Homo sapiens: one gene and its partners. The protein of the gene in region 1 purifies or fractionates together with the protein of each later gene. This does not show direct contact. Each region holds a gene or a part of one and is shown on either strand. Other genes may lie near its edges.

Region 1 (7,102 bases):
ATTGCTCCCTGGCTTCCTGAAGGCCACTGCTGGGTGTCCACAAGGCTTTGGGCCCCAGGATCTGACCTCTTCATATTTGCGGTCGGCATCTTCAGCAATGTGCTTGGCCTCTTTCAGTTGGATCTCCTGAATTTCCATTTTTTCTTCATCTTTTTGGGCTCGACTCTCAATGACTTTCATGCCTCTGAAAAGAAAGACAAGCAAGAAAACCCAAGATTTAGAGCTGAACTTCCCAAATGCACACTGCACTGCTGTGGCTTGTGAGGCTTAGTGTAAGTGGTAGACCAAAATAGAGCACAGAGCTACTTTTATTTTCCAAACCAGGAAACAACAATTTCCAGAGCTAAAGGTGGAAAAAAGAGACACATTTCTCTCTGTTCACTGTGAATGAACTCTCTCACTTTGAGTACTGATGAAACTATCAGGCATCTAACATTAATGATGACGAAAGGTACCACGTCAGGAATCTGTCTGAATCTTGGCAGTATGAAACCGGAAAAGCCAATATGCTTTACTATTAAAAAGATAATGAGATTTCTTGCCTTTCCTGTGGGAAGCCTCAGCTTGCACATGAACCAAAGCTAGAACAAAATCAAACTTATCTTTATATACCTCTTTCTACAAAGAATCTTCTTACCCTGCCACCCATAAACAAAAATATTAGACTTAATGTTAGATTTAATAAACTATTAAGTCCACAAAGAATGCTGATATTTGACCATTTCAGACAAGTAATAATGGCAATTTCTTATGGTTCAACTGAATGCATCAAATTAAGTTTTACCTATAATGGAACCCTTTCATGACAGCAATGCTGGGAGACAGGCCTGACACTGTCCTCTACACTGAGTGTATTAGGGTCCTATGGCATGGTGTATATTAGGGTCCTATAGCGTGGTGTAATGTTTCAGAAAAATACTAAATGACCTATGATATTTTACAGATATATGGAATAACAAGTCATGTAAAATGGAATTCATTTATCAAAATTTAAGTAGGCAGTATAAGTGAACCACTATTTTTTTATTTTTATTTTTTGAGACAGAGTCTCGCTCTGTCACCCAGGTTGGAGTGCGGTGGTGTGATCTTGGCTCACTGCAACCTCCACCTACTGGGTTCAAGCGATTCTTCTGCCTCAGCCTCCCGAGTAGCTGGGATTACAGGTGTGCACCACCACGCCTGGCTAAGTTTTCTATTTTTTAGTAGATTTAGGGGTTATGCCACGTTAGCCAGGCTGGTCTCGAATCCCTGGCCTCAAGTGATCTGCCCGCCTCGGCCCCCTAAAGTGCTGGGATTACAGGTGTGAGCCACCACATCTGGCCCACTATCTTTTGATGAAGCATTGGAATACAGTTGAGGAGATCTGGGTCGGAGTCTTGGCTTAGCCACAAATATGCTGTGAGCCTTGGTGCAAGTCACATCAGCCTCTGAGCCCTACTTTTCTCATTTGTAAAACTAAGGGACTAAATGATCCCCAAGTCCCCTTTACTCCGAAGTCTAACATTACCAGACTGCCTTTAAGGTACACTAACAAGTATATTTCAGAAAGAAGTCAGCCACAAAACTGCTCTTATGCGTACACTGTAAGATGCTTAGTCATCTTAAAGAAGTCCAAAATGCTTGGTTAGCGAAGAAACACTAAGCAGCGGTGAATAATGGCCTAAAAAGTTTAGCTAAAAATCTTCTTTAATCCTAAAGTCTGAAATCACTCTTTATACCTGGTACCTAGTGGTAGGGTCACTTCAAAGAGTAAGAAATGGACAAGATGACTGACTGCATTCACTTGCCCAGGTCACAGCACAGACAGATACACATTCAGTGCTCTGAGCCCCTTCATGCTATGCCATCCCTCAAGCGGCAGAACGCTCTCTCACCTCATGGAGTCTCTCTTGAAGTACTTCTATGCAATATGGCAAATCCTTACTTCCAACAGTTGAGCTTAAGGGAAAATGCCTTTTAGACCACACAAGGCTGTGCTGGTCTATACGAACCATGCTTTCCTTTACTACCACAAAGCTGAATCTGAGTAATAATTCAGCTACAGCCAGATTACAGTGGAGGTGGGCTCAGAACACACGAGCATCTGACTATTTGTGTGCATGTGTGTTGTGTATATTACTAAGACCAAGTCCAAAATATTTTACTTTTGCAGACCATGTTTCTGCTTTGTGTTTTTTCTTCCACCTATTTGTTAAGCTATTTTGACAACTGATAGTCCACAGTTCCTTTATTTACACCTAAGCCTCCTTGTATATTATAAAATAAAGTTACACTTTAAAAAATGCACAATTGCTCTGTGGTCAGTAGGAGTGAAAGGGCCAACTTGTATCCCTGACATTTCTCCTTTACATGTCTGTCTCCCTCATTAGATGGTGAGTTCTGTAAGGGCAGGAACAAGATCATCTTCTTCTTTGTAACCTTAGGGCTTAGGACAGTGCTTTGGACATAGTAGGTGTTTCACTAATGCTAAATGAACAAAACCAACCGAGTTATACCTGGGATCAATAGAGGAAATGATCCCACCACCAGGGGACTGAAAAATTCTTAAACCTCAAAGATCACAGGAGCCCTCCGGTTTATTCCACCAGGAAAGGCAGCTGCAAAAGATGGCTGATGAGGCATTCTCACCTCTCACTCTCATCTGCTGCCTTCTCAGCTTCCTCCAGCTTCTGCAAAGCTGTTGCCAGACGCTCCTGGGCACGATCCAACTCTTCCTCAACCAGCTGGATGCGTCTGTTCAGAGAAGCTACGTCGGCTTCAGCCTAGGTAGAGAGTGAAAAGCATTTCAGAGTTGGGGAGAAAGTGAGGGTGGTAGCTTCAGGAAATGGCTGGGACTGCAATGCTGATTTCAGATAGGAAGACTGTCTTGTGGTGAGCTACCTTTAAGTGCATTACAAGCCCTCATCAACTCTGGAGTTCTCGGACACATTTACACATTGATTTATACAGTGAACATCCATATTTGTGTATACACAAATCTATACACACAATTCTCATCAGACAGACAGATCATTAGCAAACGCTCTTTCACATGGTTCCTTTCTTCCGTAGATTTTTTTGTTTTGTTTTGTTTTGTTTTTGAGACAGGGTCTCGCTCTATCACCCAGGCTGGGGTGCAGTGGCACGATCTCAGCTCACTGCAAACTCCGCCTCCTGGATTCACGCCATTCTCCTGCCTCAGCCTCCCGAGTAGTTGGGACTACAGGCGCCCGCCACAACGCCCGGCTAATTTTTTTGTATTTTTAGTAGAGACGGGGTTTCACCGTGTTAGCCAGGATGGTCTCAATCTCCTGACCTCCTTATCCACCTGCCTTGGCCTCTCAAAGTGCTGGGATTACAGGCGTGAGCCACTGCGCCCGGCCCACTTCCGTAGAGTTCAACACCCTGGCTTTACTTGCCTGTTAAACAAGAGCGTCATCACGGCCACCTCACTCACTGGGGGCCTGAAGTGTGAACTGAGACAAGACTTACCCAGGCTCAGCCATGTAAGACAATAGCAGTACAGCCAGAAATCGGACTCAAGAGTTTCACTCAACTCTTTCCTTCAAGCCACTTTATCATAGGATCCTTACAAAGGAACTTAAATAGTTTAAAATTCAGTGGTTCTAAAATACACACCACATGAAGGCCCAACACAATCCAGTAACCCCTTTTAGAATAACTGGCCTCATTGGAACAGAGCCAAGACAAATTTCCCAAGTGTTTTTGATGTAAGCCTATGATTTTTCTTTGAAGTCAAGGTTAATACAAGAAAAGTATCAAACTCCTAAAAAGAAAAATAATACAAGTACTGTTTTTACTTGGTATCTGTCACTGAAATAAAATGTTGGTTTCTTTGAGAGGCAATGATTTTTTTCCTGTCATAAGAAATTGTTGCTATGAGCCTCAGAACACTTATAAGACTATGATGGTCCATTATACACACTTGCACTGGTGGCTGTTTAAATATTGTGCATGGAAGTGGGAGATGGAATTTACTAATCAGGTAAAATATCCTCATCCACTTTGAATGTATGTTCACTAAGGGGTGGTGGGGTTTTCAGAACACTTAGGAGTTTTCTAGAAATTACAATACACACTTAGGGACCCATGGTAATAGGATAACAAATTTCTCTACACACAGCCCTGTCTTTGTCATTGAACTGTAAGCTGCTCACATCCAGAGAACTCACAGTTCTCTGCACAGAGTATGGGCTCAGTAAGATGAGTAAAACCAACCTAATTTTAATAAAAGCAACGTTCTCAGCTTATGGATCCACAATACAGAGTTGGAAATGCAAATGTAGTTAGAAACTGTGGTCATAGTCTTTAATCAAAGGAATCTGAGAACCTTCAGCTCTTTGCTCACCTAGATTTGTAAGATTTTAAATGCCAAGTTTTATCTGGGAAGAGAGGTGAGTAGGGCATCTCCAACCACGGTGAAGGACTCTATAAAAACATGTAAATACACTTTTATCTTGACAAAAATGTAGTAATTGGTTGATGGAGGCAGGGAGCAGGGCAAATGTGAAATAAATCAGAGGAAGAGCATTTACAACTGTACTGCCTACAAAGTAAATCATTATCAGTGCACAGCTGGTAAATGGACCCAGCTAGGAATTACTGGCAGATGACTGTTGTTTCTGGTGTGTGTGTGTATTGAAGGGTGAGGGTAATAGGATAACAAATCTCTCAATTATAGGGAAGTGTCTTTTAAAAACCATTAGGCTTTTTTTTTTTATTACTATTACTGGAAGGATGTATATATTAAGGATATACTTTTGGGTCAGGTAAGATTTCTTCACTTTTCTATATTTTCATTTTCCAGTAAAATTCTATTCCTTTTGAGGGTGGGGGGGAGACTCAAAGCGGAAGCAAAAACAAAGGGCAAACAAAACAAAACAAAATTTAAAGCCACACAAAAAAACCAAGCACACAAACCAAAAGCCCTACAACAACAAAAAGCCTCCATAGAGTGTCTAGGTTATGTACTCAAAAGCACTGTACACTTTCTTTTCTTTCCCCCTTTCTTATCATTTTCAATATGATGGCAAATATCCTTGTTACAGAGGCTATGGCCTATTAGAGAAATGCCAGCAAGATTTTCAAAACTTTTTTGTAGCTACCAAGTTCCAAGTTCTCTGCTCTGCTTTAGATCTGGGCCTGAACCTCAAGGACTTTGTACTCACAGAAAGACGACTGTTTATGCTTTGGGGAAAGAACCCTCTGGGTGACAGGTCTCTATCCCCAGCTCCCCACACAGCCGAGTCACCAGAAAGGAAGGAAACAGCACCTCATGTTCATTCCAGCCTTGCACATGAGATCTTCCTACCCAAAGGGCCCCTACCAATCCATCCGTGTCTTCCCTCCGATCACCCCCACCCCCATTCTTTCCCTTAGCTCTTGGCACTGTGTTTACAGAATGCTGTTGTCTAAATGCCACTCTTGTTTCCCCAGGGGCATTCTGTAGAACCTCAGACTCCTGGACATCAGAGAATATGTCCTACAGGAATACCAGCCAGCAGGGCTTCATACAGGGTGCCCCAGCAACGACTGGGCATGGAGACCAGTTTCTAGGTGCCAGTTTGTGATATAGTGGGAGGAATGGTAGGGCACACACAGCAGACCTGAGAGTGGCTGCCCCTTCCTGAGGAGGCCCTGTAAATCCAAAAAATAGGGTCTCAATTTTTTAGCTAGAAGGATCCCTAGGCATTGTCCAGATCAGCAATTCCCACAAGTGGCTGAGTGTCAGAATCAACTCAGAGATGAGCATTAAAAAAAAAACTTTCAGCTGGGCGCTGTGGCTCACGCCTGTAATCCCAGCACTTTGGGAGGCCGAGGCGGGCAATCATGAGGTCAGGAGTTCGAGACCAGCCTGACCAACATGGTGAAACCCCGTCTCTACAAAAAACACAAAAATTAGCCAGGCATGGTGGCACATGCCTGTAATCCCAGCTACTCAGGAGGCTGAGGCAGGAGAATTGCTTGAACCCGGGAGGCAGAGACTGCAGTGAGCCGAGATCATGCCACTGCACTCCAGCCTGGGCGACAGAGCAAGACTCTTGTCTCAAAAACAAAAAAAAAAAAAAAAAAATCAAACTTCCAGGCCGTGTCCCTAGAGATTCTGATTCAGGAGGTCAAAGGGGGAGGGCAGGAATCTGTACTATAAATAAACAATCCCCTTTGCCACCACCCAAAGAAGCTGGCTATTCTTCTAGCTCTTGACTAGAAACAGGCGGCAGGAGGGAACTCTGACCCTGGGCACAGAAGTATGTGGAGGCCATACAGCCATCAGTGTGAGACAGGATTAAGATCCAAGTCACTAGGCTCCCAGCATGCCGGCTCTCCACTATGTCACTTCTCCTGGCTTCCCGGAACATCACGGAAACCTTGGAACTGGCAGTTCTCACTCCTGTGTCTTTATCTCTCCTGAGATCAGATTGAGATGTTCTCCGGCCCCCACCCCAACTCCCCACAAAAGGCCTCAGGCACAGATCCTAACCAGGACTGGGAGAACAGTTGCTGCAATGCAAATCATCTGCTAAAGTGATTATCACAATCTTTTTGAAATGAGGCAGGATATAAAATTGAAAACTTCATAAAACAATGCTAATGGGTAATAGGAAGCTCACATAAGGACACGGAACATTTACTCCCTAGCCCAGAAGTCAATGCCTACTGCCCCAGAGGTTTCAGAGCAGGACAGGCAGAGGGGCTTTGAGGTTAAAGCCAGGACCTAGGAGTAGTATCTGAGGTACACCTATCTTTATGGGAAAACCCTGAACCCATGACAGGCTCTGCAGGCCCTATTATACTGGCCTAGTAGAATTTTTGTTTGGCTCGTTAGAATTCAAGATATGCTTAATTTTATAATTTAATCAGGGCCACTTTTTTCTCTTTCTTATTTTTACTTTTTATTCTGATTTATTATGCTCTATGTTCCAAAAGCCCCACACCTCTCACCTTTACTAGCTTTTATTTCTGGTATTTTTTTTTTTAAGTTTTGAGCTTATTTCAATATTTTCTAAGGTTCTTTTCATCATGGCACCTGGGGAGTCTTAAGGACCTGCTGTTGCCTCTGCCGGTACAAGCCCATAGACACATGACCATCTGTTATCTAAAA
Region 2 (7,000 bases), on another chromosome or scaffold:
AGGGCGTTGGTAGGTGGGACTGTTGACGCCATCCCTGGGAGAGAAGAAAGTCGGCTGTGGCAGGGACTGGTCCCAGAGTGAGCCTAGGCACTGCATCAGTTTGAGTGGCTGGTTAGCCTGGACCCTGGGCAGGTATGGGGCGGCCCATCCTGCCCAGCCACAGGAAGCTCTAGGCCACCTGGATTTGCAGGTCCTCGTCCTCGTCCAGGTCACTGGTTCCATCCTCGGCCTCCTCGGTGCCAAAGCGAGCACTGCGGATCTTCCCGAAGAGGGGAGCGTTCTGCTGCTGCCTGCGGAGCCTGTGGGGTGGGGGTGACAGGAGGTTAGAGCAGCCTGGCTGGTAGTCCCCCGATAAGGTGGCTGCAGCTGGTGCTGGAGCAGTTAAGCCTTCCCTGGTGCTTTCCCTGCTGTCTCATCTCCTGTAATCTCCTTATATGATAGAAGTGCCATTATCACCCCCATTTTACAAGCAAGGAAACCGAGGCACAGAAAGGTGAAGTCATTTGCTCAAAGTCACACAGATGGTGGGGAGTGGGGCAGAGCTCTGAACTGAAGTGGGTGGTGCCAGAGCAGCTGGGCGGTTAGAGAGGTGAAGGAGCTGGCTCAAGGTCATGCTGCAGGATTTGAACCCAAGCCTGGCTCTCAGAGCACAGGCAGCAGAGTTGGTTGGTGTGACAGTGCAGGGTGGGCTGAGCCCTCTACATTCCCAGTGTCAGTGAGAAAGGGCTCAGCCCTAGTTCTTCCTCACATTAAAATTCCTAAAGTCAAAATTTACGAGGAAAACTTTGAGTCTAAGAAGAGCTGGTGAAGGAAATGCCGATCCCTCCCCCAACCCCCCAGCAAAGTGGCCGCCCCGGCTGCATCTTACTGGAAGACATGAATTATTAACACGTAAGGGAGGGGCACAGGCGGGGGCCTCCATTACTGCACAGTGATTTAGTGAGCTGTCCCCGGAACATTAAAGCACAAAAAGTTGGAAAATAAAACGACACAGCGGTCCTGGGTGGCCCCACCCTCCCCGATGGAAGCACTTGAGAGGCCCAGCAGGGCCTGCCTGCCCACTTCTGGAGTTTATGGCTCCTGAACAATGTGACCCAGACTGCGGGAAAGCCCCAAGGCTAAGTGGTCTTTTGAAGGGTGTGTGCTGCAGGGTCAGAGCAGGCAGAGCCAGCCAGGCATGGGTCCTGACTTGGGCCCACGCCTGGGCCCCTGCACAACACTTTATGGGCGTCATCCCAGGCAGATGGGGAAATCGAGGCTCAGTTTACCATGGCACAATAGCTGTTAGGTCTCTGCAGCCCATTCTCTAAGCCACAAGATCTCAGCAAACAGCAGCATATAGTAAATGCTCAATAAATAAGGGCTTGGATGGCTGATGGCCAGGGGTGATTCTGCCTGGCCACCCACCAACTGTGTGGCCATGGAAAGACTTACCCTCTTGGGCCTTAGTTTCCTCATCTGCCAGCCCCCTAGGAAAAAACATCTTTCCTTTCTCTCATAGAAGCAGCGTGATGCTGATGCACAACATGTAACCCAAATATAAGCCCCTCCGCAGCGGTAGTAGTAACAGTAGTAATAGCAGCAGCTGCTGACAATCACTCAGCATTTATTATGTGCCAGGTGTTTTCTTTCTTTTTTTCTTAGAGACGGGATCTCACTTTGTCTCCCAGGCTGGAGTACCGTGGTGTGATCACAGCTCACTACTATAGCTATGAACTCCTGAGCTCAAGTGATCCTCCTGCCTCGGTCTCCCAAGTAGCTGGAACTACAGGCACACACCACCATGCCTGGCTAAGTTTTGTATTTTTTGTAGACATGGGGGTCTTGCTTTGTTGCCCAGGGGGTCTCAAACTCCTGGTCTCAAGCAATCCTCTTGCCCTGGCCTTCCAAACTGTTGGGATTACAGGTGTGAGCTACCATGCCTCCAGGTACTTTCTTAAGAATGGATCAGCTCATTTAATACTCACAACAATCAAGAGGTAAGAACTATCATCATCCCCATTTTACAGATGAAGAAACTGACACAGAGAGGTTAAATAAATGTCCCAAGGCCACACAGCTGCTAATGCTGAGCCAGGCTTCAGACCATTCAGGCAGTCTGGCTGCAGAACCGGGCACCCTCTATTCCACGAAAGAAGAGAATGCAACTAAGTGCATTCTCAGGGCCCGGCACAGGTCAATGCTGTGGCTCCGATGCTCCTTGGGCCTCCCAGCTGTGAAGTGGGAGGGACGTGGACTGAAGTTTTCTGATATCGCCTGGTTCTGTGATTCACAGAGTGCTGGGACAGAGACAGGGTTGGGAGAGGGAGGCAGAGTGTGCTGGGTGGGGCCTGTTGGCAGTGGACGGGATCCAGGCCTGGGGCCCCTCCACGAGTCCCTGCTCACCAGTCTCTCAGATCCCTGCTGTCTTGGTGTCACCTGGGCCCAGTAACGCTGAGGGCTGCCTATTTGAGCCCTGCTGGCCCCACCCACTGCCCCAAGCCTTGGGCCTGACCTCTCCAGCCCGCCCTTCCTGCCCTCACTCTACCCACCAGCCCTCCTGCTAGAGGAGACAATTCCAGGGCCTGCAGCTGGCCTGACTTCCTGCACCCCCTGCCCTGGTTTCCTGGCTCTGGCCCTTCCTGCCCGGAGGGGACAGGATTCTGGCTCCAGGCACCTGGATCTCTTCCTTCGTCTCCCCCTCCAGCCTTGGTTTGGGCTCCGTCCCTGACCGGAGGGTTCCCTGGCTGGAAGTCTCTGCCCTGTTTCTGTTCCCTGCCCGGGGCCCACCTGGACTGCAGGTGCTCCAGTTGCACTTGCAGGTTCTCGCTCTGCTCCGTCTGCTCGTCCAGCGACCGCTGCAGCTTACGTGCCTGGTTGTGGGCCTCGTCCAGCTGTGGGGGTGAGCAGGGCCGAAAGCACGAGGGTCACCCAGGGCTGGGCAAGGCCGGCCACCCGCCCAGGGAAAACCACTCCTGCTGTTCCCTGGGAAGGTGCTCCTCCGAGAGTGTTTGCTCCTTGAGGCCTAGGCTAAGGCTTACCTCTTCTAGAAAAGCATCCCTTTGGTTCCTCTCCATCCCCTTTGCCTCCTCTTGCACATCTACCCATCCTCCCAGGCCCTGCACTACTGATGCAGCCATCCACCTCCTATCCTTCTGTCCCCATCAGTCTGTCCATCGGACCATTCGTCCAGGGAGATATTCATCTGCCCATGGAGACAGTCACCCACCACTCCCCATCCATTAATCTAATCAGCAGCCCATCTAGCATGCCTAGCCATGCCTTCCTGCTCTCCCGGACACACCTATCTTCCCGTCAACCTGGCCTTCTTTCTCCCTCTGTATTCGTTCTTCCACCCACTGACCCAGTCAGCTGTCCATCCATCTGTCCACTCTCTACCCATCCAGCCATCATCTGTTCATACATCCATTGGATCCACCCATCCATCTGCCCGCCCTGCCTCTCTCTCCCATTCATCCATCCATTCATTCCTTTACCCATTGGTTCATCCATGCACACATCCATCTTGTCTTCTGTTCATTTTTCTTCCCATCTTCCCACCCACATGTCCATCCTGCCATCCATTCATCACGCACCTACCCACTCTATCCTGGGCGACTCCTGAGAGACAGGCTTGTGCCAGGCACCAGGGGCTGAGAATGGAGAAGCCAGGATGGCCCTGCGGCCCCCACTCCTCCCTGGCCAAGGTCTGTTGCTGCCCCTGCCCCTCTGTGGTCCTCACCTCGTCCTCAGCCTGGGCCAGCTCCTTCTTGAGCTCCTCCACCCGCAGCCGCAGCTTCTTCACCTCAGCCTCGTGCTGCTCCACCCGCCGGTTGGCATGTGCCAGCTCTGCCACCTTCTCCTGGAACTGCTTCTTCAGCTTGCCATGCACATGCTTCAGGTCTGCCAGCTCCTACAGGGCACAGGGATGGGGTGGGAGGGAGGAGGGAATCAGTATCAGCTTGGGCGCCATGCCAGGGAGTCCCACGAGGTCAGGCAGTTCTAGGGATGCTGGGTGTCTCTCCTTCCCAGAATCTCTCCATCTGTTGTCTGAAGTATCAGCAGTAGAGGTTTGGCTGAGCAGCCAGAGGCTGGAGGTGCCTTCCAGGGAGGTGAGAAGGCTGGGTGGGTGGAACCTGTGGCTCCGGTTTGGATGTGTAACTTTCAGATGCTACTGGATCTACCCTGGAGCTGTTGGAGCAGGGTCGGGGTTTCCGGGGAAGGATGAGGTCTGGAGTCTTCAGGGGCGTATGGCATTGAAAGAGCTGGGTTGGGAATGAGCTAGGCTGGGGAATGGGTGGGTGTCTCAGAGCCCAGAGTGGCTGGGAAGAGGAAGGGCAGCCAGCAAAAGAGATGCCCACCCTGGAGCTCTGTGAGTTCTCTAAGCCTCAGTTTCCATTTCTGTAAAATGGGAATAGGCATTGCCTAAAGGTCTCTTGAGTCCATCCTTTTTGTTCCATCTCTACTGACTGCAACCTGGTCCAGGTCTCCTCCCTCTCTTGTTGTCCAGGGAATGTCAACAGCTTCCCCCCAGCCTGTCTTCCCATCCTCTGCCCACACAGCCTGCTCACACTCCCCTCCTGCTTTAAACTCTCTCGAAGAGTCCCACCACTCGTGCCTCACTTACCACATCCCCCCGCTCACTCCCCTCCAGCACACTGGACTTGTTCCTCCAAAGCTCTGTGTCTCTTTCACCACGGACATTTATTCATGTTATTCCTAACTTCTCTCCATCCCCTCCCCTAAATCCGCACACTACCAGTTAACGGCTGCTTTTCCTGGAGAACTCAGTTTATTTATTTATTATTATTTTTTTGAGACGGAGTTTCTCTGTCACCCAGGCTGGGGTGCAGTGGTGCAATCTCAGCTCAGTGCAACCTCTGCCTCCCGGTTTCAAGTGATTCTCCTGCCTCAGCCACCCGAGTAGCTGGGATTACAGGTGCCCACAATGCTCGGCTAATTTTTGTATTTTTAGTAGATATGGGGTTTCGCCATGTTAGCCAGGCTGGTCCCAAAATGCTGACCTCAGGTGATCTGCCCACCCCAGCCTCCCAAAGTGCTGAGATTACAGATGTGTGCCACTGCGCCTGGCTGAGAACTCAGTTTAAAATGTCACTGCCTCCGGGAGGTATTTCCAGGACCGTGGGCCTAAGCCAGGTCTCCTAGTATCCCCTCTTCTTGCTGGTGACCATGAAGCTGTGTGATTGGCATGAATCTGTGTGACAGAGAGAGCCATGTGTACATCCCCCAAGTAAGTCTTCAGCTCCATGAGGGGAAGAGGGGAGGCCACATCTGTCTGTTCAGTGCTGTGTCTCTGGCACCTAGAGTGGAGCTTGGCACATAGTAAGTGCTCAATGAATGCGGCTACTATAATTACCAACTGGTCTAGCACACAAGGTGCTGAATACATGCAGCTACCATAATTATCACCAGGCCTGACACATAGTAGGGAAGCTGCGCTCTGGCTGGATGGGGAGGTGGCAGCCCCAGCACTGGCCACTCCACTCCTTGCCCCACCTTGTTCTTCTCGAAGAGCGCGGCCTGGCTGGCCCTCAGGTCGCAGTCCAGTGCGCTGGCTGTTTGCCGCCGCCGCCGGGCCAGCGCCTCCTCCAGGTCTCCGACCTGTGCCCGCAGCTTCTTGTTCTCCCGCTCAAGGCCCAGTTTCTCTGTCTCCAGCCGCTCCCGGCGGCCCCACTCCGCAGCGTTTTCGGCCTGCAGCCGCTCCATCTGCAGCAGGGCAGGGCAGAGTGAGGACTCCCAGCGGAGGGGGCATGCAGGGCCTGAGCTGGATGCCCCCGCCACCTCCTGGAGCCATTTTTGGCTCCAGGAAGCAGATCCAGCTGCATTGGCTGTAATTAAGCTGGGCTCATTTCATGGTGTACAGGATGTGAGGGCGCTTCTGGCCTCTGTGTGGGAGAGAGGCCTGCCTCTTGCAGATCAGGACACCATTGGATGTGGCTGGCCCCGCTCAGAGCACAGTCCTGGCCCCTGCCCTGTTCCCAGTGACCTGCTGATGGAGCAGGGCCCCAGGACCCCTAAACCCAGGTCCTCCTGGGTCCCATCCATGGCCTCACCTCGCCCCTCAGCTCGGCCATTTTCCGGTCCATGCTGGAGCGTGCACCGAGCTCATCTTCCAGGTCCTCAGACATGCGGCCCAGCTCGTCCTGGTGCGCCTCCTTCAGGATGCTGAGCTGCAGGGATAAGGCCCCACCTGGTCATGAGAACCACCAGGATATAGCCTGGAACCACCTCCGGGGGTGGGCGCCAGTGCAGGAGTGCTCAGCGTGGAGCCAAGGCAGCGCCCAAATGGGGCAGGCACCAGGTATTCCAAACAGACCTCGAATCTGACCACTTCTGCTCCTCCCAATGTCTCTCCTCCTCATTACTGTCTAGCCTCCCAGTGTCTACTCCTGGCCCTTCTCTGTCAACCCGTTTTCTACAACAGCAGCCCAGAGGGAGCTTTTAACAAAGATGAATGCAATCATACCACCCTCCTCCCACAAAGCCTCTGATGGCTCCCAGGTGCCTTAGGGTAAAGTCCAACTCCTCTCTACGCTCTCACAAAGCCCTGCACGATTGGACACCTACCCGCCGCTCCCCCTTAGTTCACTGTACTCCAGGCACCAGGGACTCCTTTCTGTTCCTCAGACACACCAAGTTCCTGCCCACCACAGGGCCTTTGCACATGCGTGGATCTTTCTGAGACACTTCTTAGGACTGATTTTTCTTATTCTCAGGCCTTGACCTAAAGGCCCCCTCCTTAGGAATGCCTCTTCTGCCCACCTGGCCTGGAGGAGGGGCCTCCTCATCCCACTCCCCACTGGAAAGCTAGCCTGGGAGGACGGGGAGCTTGTGCGTCTGTCCACCTTTGTGTCGTTGTATGGCCTGGGCACAGGGCCGCCCTCAGTGTACAGTGACTAATTCCAACACTGCTCTGCACACAGGTGCATCGGCATTGCTTGGCGTGCATTTAAGACAATAACATTTCTTGCGGTATACAGCAAACCCCAACAAACTGCTG
Region 3 (7,000 bases), on another chromosome or scaffold:
TCTTGGCTCACTGCAGCCTCTGCCTTCCAGGTTTAAGCAATTCTTGTACCTCAGCCTCCCAAGTAGCTGGGACTACAGGCATGTGCCACCATGCCTGGCTAACTTTTGTATTTTTTATAGAGATGGGGCTTTGCCGTGTTGGCCAGGCTGGGCTCAAACTCCTGGCCTCAAGTGATCCACCTGCCTTGGCCTCCCAAAGTGCTGTGATTATAGGCATAAGCCACTGTGCCTGACCTGTATCAGTGTTTTTTAAACTGTAAGTTACAGTATATGATTGTGAATGAATGGGTTATGACCAGCGTTATAGAAAATGAAATAGAACAGAATGACATATTCAAATATTAGGAAAGTCATATTTAAAATTAACTTGTTTTTTAACCTTTGAAATTGTGAAATATAATGCCAACAGAAAAATACGAATATACAGCTTAATGAATTATAACACAAATAACCTGCGTAACCTCCACCCAGGTCAAGAAGAGAATATTGCCCATCTTTTTATCACCTTTTCTGTTTGTCTTGAATGCTAATAAATTTCTTTTTTTTTTCTTTTTTTTTTTTTTTGAGATAGAGTCTCGCTCTGTTGCCCAGGCTAGAGTGCAGTGGCGCCATCTCGGCTCACTGCAAGCTCTGCCTCCCAGGTTCACGCCATTCTCCTGCCTCAGCCTCCCGAGTAGCTGGGACTATAGGCGCCCGCCACCACGCCCGGCTAATTTTTTGTATTTTTAGTAGAGACGGAGTTTCACCATGTTAGCCAGGATGGTCTCGATCTCTTGACCTCATGATCTGCCCACCTTGGCCTCCTAAAGTGCTGGGATTACCTGCATGAGCCACCGCACCAGGCCAATAAATTTCTTAAAATAAATCATAAGAAACTTTTTAATCCTTCTGATAAAAAATTCTTAAGAAATTAAACTGTGTTGGCCGGGCACGGTGGCTCACGCCTGTAATCCCAGCACTTTGGGAGGCGGAGGCTGGTGGATCACAAGGTCAGGAGATCGAGACCATCCTGGCTAACATGGTGAAACCCTGTCTGTACTAAAAATACAAAAAAAAAAAAAATTAGCCAGTCATAGTGGCAGACCCCTGTGGTCCCACCTACTCGGGAGGCTGAGGCAGGAGAATGGCATGAACTTGGGAGGCGGAGCTTGCAGTGGGCCAAGATGGTGCCACTGCACTCCAGCCTGGGCAACAGAGCGAGACTCCGTCTCAAAAAAAAAAAAAAAAGGAAATTAAACTGTTATTTGAGTTACTTTGGCCTTTACATGTACAGACTGCTTCATTTCCTTTTGTTTAAGGAAAATTAATATTCAATCTATGAAGCATAAAAATGATTAATTCTTGGACCGTTAAAGAGTAATGATTAACAGAATATAGAAAATGCTTTCATTTTAACAAAAACTGCGTTTGAAAATATTTACTTACTTTTTGAGACAGAGTCTTACTCTCTTGCCCCCGCTGGAGTGCAGTGGTGTGATTTCAGCTCACTGCAACCTTTGCCTCCTGGGTTCGAGTGATTCTTTCACCTCAGCCTCTCTGGTAGCTGGGACTACAGGCGTGTGCCACCATGCCTGGCTAAGTTTTTGTATATTTTTGGTAGAGACGGAGTTTCACCATGTTGGTCAGGCTGGTCTTGAACTCCTGACCTCAAGTGATCCACCCACCTTGGCCTCCCAAAGTGCTGGGATTACAGGTATGAGCCACTGCGCCTGGCCCTGCATTTCAAAATATTTATTGCCTTGTTATAGGGCCTGGTTGATTCCCTTTAGTGGACTTAAAAGGTGTAGTCTGCATATTGAATGGAAAATCTTTCTTAAAGTATATCTAATTTTTACATCCTGAAGTGGCATGTGAATTGAGGATACATTGAAATTGCAGGATGTAGAGAATGAGCTAGCAGTACAAGTTAGTATGAAGCATGAGATTGAACTTGCCATGAAGTTGCTGGAGAAAGATATCCATGAGAAACAAGATACTCTGATAGGCCTTCGACAACAACTAGAGGAAGTTAAAGCAATTAACATAGAGATGTATCAAAAGTTGCAGGTAAGGATTGTTCTTAAATTTCATTTTATGTAAATTGAAAGTGAATATTTGTAGAAAGGTTTTGGTTTTTAAGAGATGAGCCCATTTTATTTTAACTGTGCAATATTATAAAGGCCAATGTCTTTTTTTTTCTAAATGAAAGCTTAAGAAATGTAATGAAAAAGGTATCAACAAACAAAATATCACCTGTCTAAATTTTTAATGTTGAAAGATTAAGAGTATGAAGATTAAATCTTTTGGGAAAACTCTCAATTTAAACTGCAAAACGTTTTTGTGAACTTCCTTTTCCAGTGTAGTTCTAAGAAAGATTTAATTTTGATTGAAATGCTACACTATCAAAATAGTAAATTTTCTTTCTTTGTTTTTTTTTGAGATGGAGTCTCGCTCTGTTGCCCAGGCTGGAGTACAGTGGTGAGATCTCGACGCACTGCAACCTCTGCCTCCCAGGGTCAAGCGATTCTCCTGCCTCAGCCTCCCTAGTAGTTGGGACTACGGGCATATACCAATACGCCCGGCTAATTTTTGTATTTTTAGTAGAGATGGGGTTTCACAATGTTGGCCAGGCTGGTTTCGAATTCCTGACCTCAGGTGATCCGCCCACCTCGGCCTCCCAAAGTGCTGAGATTACAGGCGTGAGCCACCATGCCTGGCCCATAATTGTGAGTTTTGTACGATGATATTGCTATTAAGTAGATATGTTGCCAAAACCCTTTACAATTTAATTAATTTGAAAAATGTCATATTTTACAAGAGTGTATTCTGTCATCTTCCAAAAATATTGAAGGTGGAGTTTTTTTTTCCTTTATTACATTTTATTTTTTAATTTTTTTTTCTTTTTTTCTTTTGTTTTCTGTAGAGATGAGGTCTCACTATATTGCCCAGGCTGGTCTCAAGCGATCCTCCCACCTTGGCCTCCCAAAGAGCTGAGATTACAAAGGCCTCCCAAAGAGCCACTGCACCCGGCCTATTACATTTTAAATGAGGACTAATAGAGGCCAGGTGCCATGGCTCATGCTGTAATCCTAGCACTTAGGGAGGCCGAGATGGGAGGATTGTTTGATGCCAGGAGTTCGAGACCAGCCTGGTGAACATAGCAAGACCCCATCTTAAAAAAAAAAAAAAAGGGCCGTGTGCGGTGGCTCATGCCTGTAATCCCAGCACTTTGGGAGGCCAAGGCGGGCAGATCACAAGGTCAGGAGATCGAGACCATCCTGACTAACACAGTGAAACCCTGTCTCTACTAAGAATACAAAAAAATTAGCTGGGCGCAGTGGCGGGCACCTGTATTCCCAGCTACTTGGGAGGCTGAGGCAGGAGAATGGCGTGAACCTGAGAGGCGGAGCTTGCAGTGAGGCGAGATGGTGCCACTGCACTCCAGCCTGGGCGACAGAGTGAGACTGTCTCAAAAAAAAAAAAAAATGACTAATAGCACTGCTTTATATCACACAATTATTTTAATGTATAAAGTAACTCTGTTCATTTCAAAGTAACAGTCCCATAGCAAAATGGTGTAAGAAACTTATAAATACTCAGGTTAACAGATCAGAACTCTACTTGGGAGGCTGAGAGGTGGGATAGCTTGAGCCCAGAAGTTCAAATCCAACCTGGGCTGCATAGTGATACCCTATCTATTAAAAACACGCACACACACACACACACAAACACACACACACAAATCAAAACCACCATAGCTTTTGTTTTTATAAATAGGGTTCTGAAGATGGCTTGAAAGAAAAAAATGAAATAATTGCCCGACTAGAAGAAAAAACCAATAAAATTACTGCAGCCATGAGGCAGCTGGAACAAAGGTACAGCATTTCCAGTCTTAGTTTCTTTTTTTCTTTTCTTCTTCCCTTTTTCTTTATTCAGTTCCTACACCTGCCACAAAAACCATTAGGAAGACATAGATTAGGACATGTTTTTTGTTTAAGCCCAGCAGGATTTTGCGTTTTTGCTTTGGTTGTTGCATGGAATCAAGTTGCTTTATATTACGCTGATTCATTTGAAGTTGTCATATTGTAGATTTTTCTTAGAGGCCTAATATCAGCAGTTTCATGTCGTTCAGTTACATAAAACAAATACACAAATAAAAATGTCAAAAAAATTAAAAATGAACAAACAGAGTGAGATTATCCCTGATTGATTTCCATGCATATTAATTGTCATATTCTTTGCCATTCACCATCTGTTTATCTGAAATCAAGCATTCCGAATTGGTGGTTTAGTTTTGTTTCTTTGAGCTAGGACCCTCAACCCAACCGAGGATATAATTTTGTTTAAATTGAATTGTTTTATATTGGCATTTTTCACTTTTATTGTTGGAAAATGTAATGTATTTCCATTGCCCTGTCATGTTGGTGTCAACATATGTCTTTTATCATTGCTTTCTTTGAATCTACTTATGAAAAACATAACTATTAATGCTTTATTGACATGAATATTCTTTTATTGACATCCTCTTTCTTCTTTTTTCTTTTTTGTTTTCTTTATCCCCATTTTTACATTTTGGACATTTTTATTACCTTTTTCTGTCTTTGATTTCTTTCCATTCCATTATGAAGTGACAACGATTTGTTAACTCAAACTAGGACAATTGCAATGTCATTGGTGAAATGTGCCAGCAGTGACACGCAGGACCAGTACAAGCTGGTTAAAGATATATCTTTCTGAAGACCACTTGTATTTAAACAGACTAAATGAAAAGAGAATCAACAATTTTATAATATATTAAATAGAAAGGAATCTAAATGCTATTAAATATTCTAAAAGGATGTTAGGAACCCTGTACATTTCTTGGTCAGCTGCTGTGGTAATACACTGCCATCAAGCAGAGTGGGTGCACTTGGATTTCCAGACATACGTTCCTCAAACCTTGTGCACAAAGGGTGATTTGAGTATTGACCCTTTGGAGGTCAGGATTTTCAAATGCAGTTTTATCTTTTTAGCTACTTTTTGATGAAAAATATAAAGATTGTTTAAAAATAACTTAACCTTCAGTTTTATACTGTGTTGGCACAGATATTTTTTTCTCATTGGCCCACTCTTTGCCCAATGGCTCCCTTACAGATTTTTACATATGCTTTAAAATAATTTATAACCCAGACTGGCCAACACCCTGTGCTTCAGCTTCTCAGTTTTCCGGTTCTCCCTTGCCCTCTTCTGTGATAGCACAACTTCAAGGCCTACCTCACTCTGACTTCTATTTTCCTTTTTGTAACCTTAGAGAAAAGCTTGGGTCCAATCCCAGCACCTGAATATTTTAATTTAAACTTGGATTTGGAGATAACTTAAATGTTACTCTCCCTTCCTTGGAAGCAGCATTTATACCCCTGAAATATGTGAGGGTTGCTCCATTGGTATGGTTTTAAGGAAGAAAGGAAGAGGAAGAGTTTTTTAGTTAGTTGAACCGAAATTTCTCTTGTGATTTCCTGCAAGGAGTTAATATCCTTTGAATCTTGGTAAATATTTTCTTATAAAAATATTGAAGTTAAATACAAGAAATCCTAGATGGCCAAAGAAGGCAGGGAGTGGAGCTAAGCACAGGAAAATGCAACGACTTACAAATAAAAACAGGAAAGATGAAAATCACAATGTTTTAGCTAATTTTTAATATTAAATGGTGAGGAACAAAAATGATCTCTAGCAAATGATGCCAACTGGCACCAAATTCTTTTTGAATCTTAAACATATATGCACACGTGCACACACACACACACACAGAGCTTCGGCATAATTTAGTAAATGCATAAAGATGCCGTAAGAAGGACTTGGCTATCATTTGGAGTAATTGCAGGTCTTTGCTCTTGGCCTTGTAGCACACTTGATTCCTGGCATACACATCCTAGCATAACATATAACAGTGTGGCTTCTTCACCTAGTGTAGGCATAAATCCTTTGCTTTTCATGGTTTTGTAAAAAGGTAGTAACATACCTATTATGCTTTGAAATTTGATTCGTTATGCTCTGCATAAGTGGTAAAGGCTGTATTGCTTTGCACTGTTAATTATGAACAAGAAATAAAACAAATTTGAAGATAGTATTCTGGGCATACTACATGTTATATTGAAAAAAAAAAATCACAAAACAACTTCTAGACATTGTGTGGCTCTTTCACGTTTGAGTTTGTGAGTTTTCCCCCAAACTTTGTTTTCATTTAGAAATGTTTCTATTTCCCCATTTTTCTTTTATTTGTCTTCTTCACCCTTTTACACCCTAGTTCTAGCCTCAGTTTTACCCAAAGTTGATTTGAATTACACCAGATTGCAGCAAGCAGAGAAGGCGCAAATGGAAGCTGAAGATGAGGATGAGAAATATCTACAAGAATGTCTCAGTAAATCTGATAGTCTGCAGAAACAAATCTCCCAAAAGGAGAAACAGCTGTGAGTATTTCACTCTCAGAAACAAATACTTGTGTTAACATAACCCCCTCATTTTTTTGCACATAATGATAGAATACCAATATTTTTATTTATCTAATGATGCCAGTTAGCTTTTAGTGTTTACTTTAAAAAACAAAAAAATTTAGAAAATATAATTGTAATAATACTTATGTTTTTACTCCCTTTATGATTTACAGAGTACTTTCAACTCTGTTTTGCTGTCTTCTTGCTCTAGGAGAGTTTTATTCATTCTTCTGTTGTTTAACATTAATCTGATGGTCATTATGTTTCTAGGTGCTGAGTATAGGCTTTTGTAACTACAAGAAACTTATATTATTAAAGGACATGCTGTTTTCTGAGAATATATATATATATATATATATATATATATATATATATATATATATATACACACATTTTTTTGAGATGAAGTTTCACTCTTGTTGCCCAGGCTGGAATGCAATGGCATGTGACCTCAGCTCACTGCAACCTCTGCCTCCTGGGTTCAAGCGATTCTCCTGCCTCAGCCCCCTGAGTAGCTGTGATTACAGGTGCCTGCCACCACGCCTGGCTAA

What was found. Proteins that work in one complex are often made in the same cells at the same time.
Region 2: the proteins of TPM1 (region 1) and CCDC102A purify together in Homo sapiens (affinity purification with mass spectrometry; 3 studies listed by BioGRID and IntAct, with this or other methods). This does not show direct contact.
Region 3: the proteins of TPM1 (region 1) and RUFY2 purify together in Homo sapiens (affinity purification with mass spectrometry; 3 studies listed by BioGRID and IntAct, with this or other methods). This does not show direct contact.

The regions. Positions count from the first base shown.
Region 1 is NC_000015.10:63,052,645-63,059,746, reverse strand, and holds part of TPM1 (tropomyosin alpha-1 chain), read right to left. Parts: intron 2,763-7,102; coding exon 2,629-2,762; intron 185-2,628; coding exon 67-184; intron 1-66. UniProt on the Homo sapiens protein: Binds to actin filaments in muscle and non-muscle cells. Plays a central role, in association with the troponin complex, in the calcium dependent regulation of vertebrate striated muscle contraction.
Region 2 is NC_000016.10:57,512,572-57,519,571, forward strand, and holds part of CCDC102A (coiled-coil domain-containing protein 102A), read right to left. Parts: intron 6,171-7,000; coding exon 6,054-6,170; intron 5,707-6,053; coding exon 5,497-5,706; intron 3,893-5,496; coding exon 3,722-3,892; intron 2,874-3,721; coding exon 2,770-2,873; intron 300-2,769; coding exon 170-299; 3' UTR 1-169.
Region 3 is NC_000010.11:68,376,278-68,383,277, reverse strand, and holds part of RUFY2 (RUN and FYVE domain-containing protein 2), read left to right. Parts: intron 1-1,878; coding exon 1,879-2,046; intron 2,047-3,756; coding exon 3,757-3,854; intron 3,855-4,607; coding exon of another isoform or gene 4,608-4,716; exon of another isoform or gene 4,717-6,085; intron 6,086-6,262; coding exon of another isoform or gene 6,263-6,290; exon of another isoform or gene 6,291-6,305; coding exon 6,306-6,425; intron 6,426-7,000.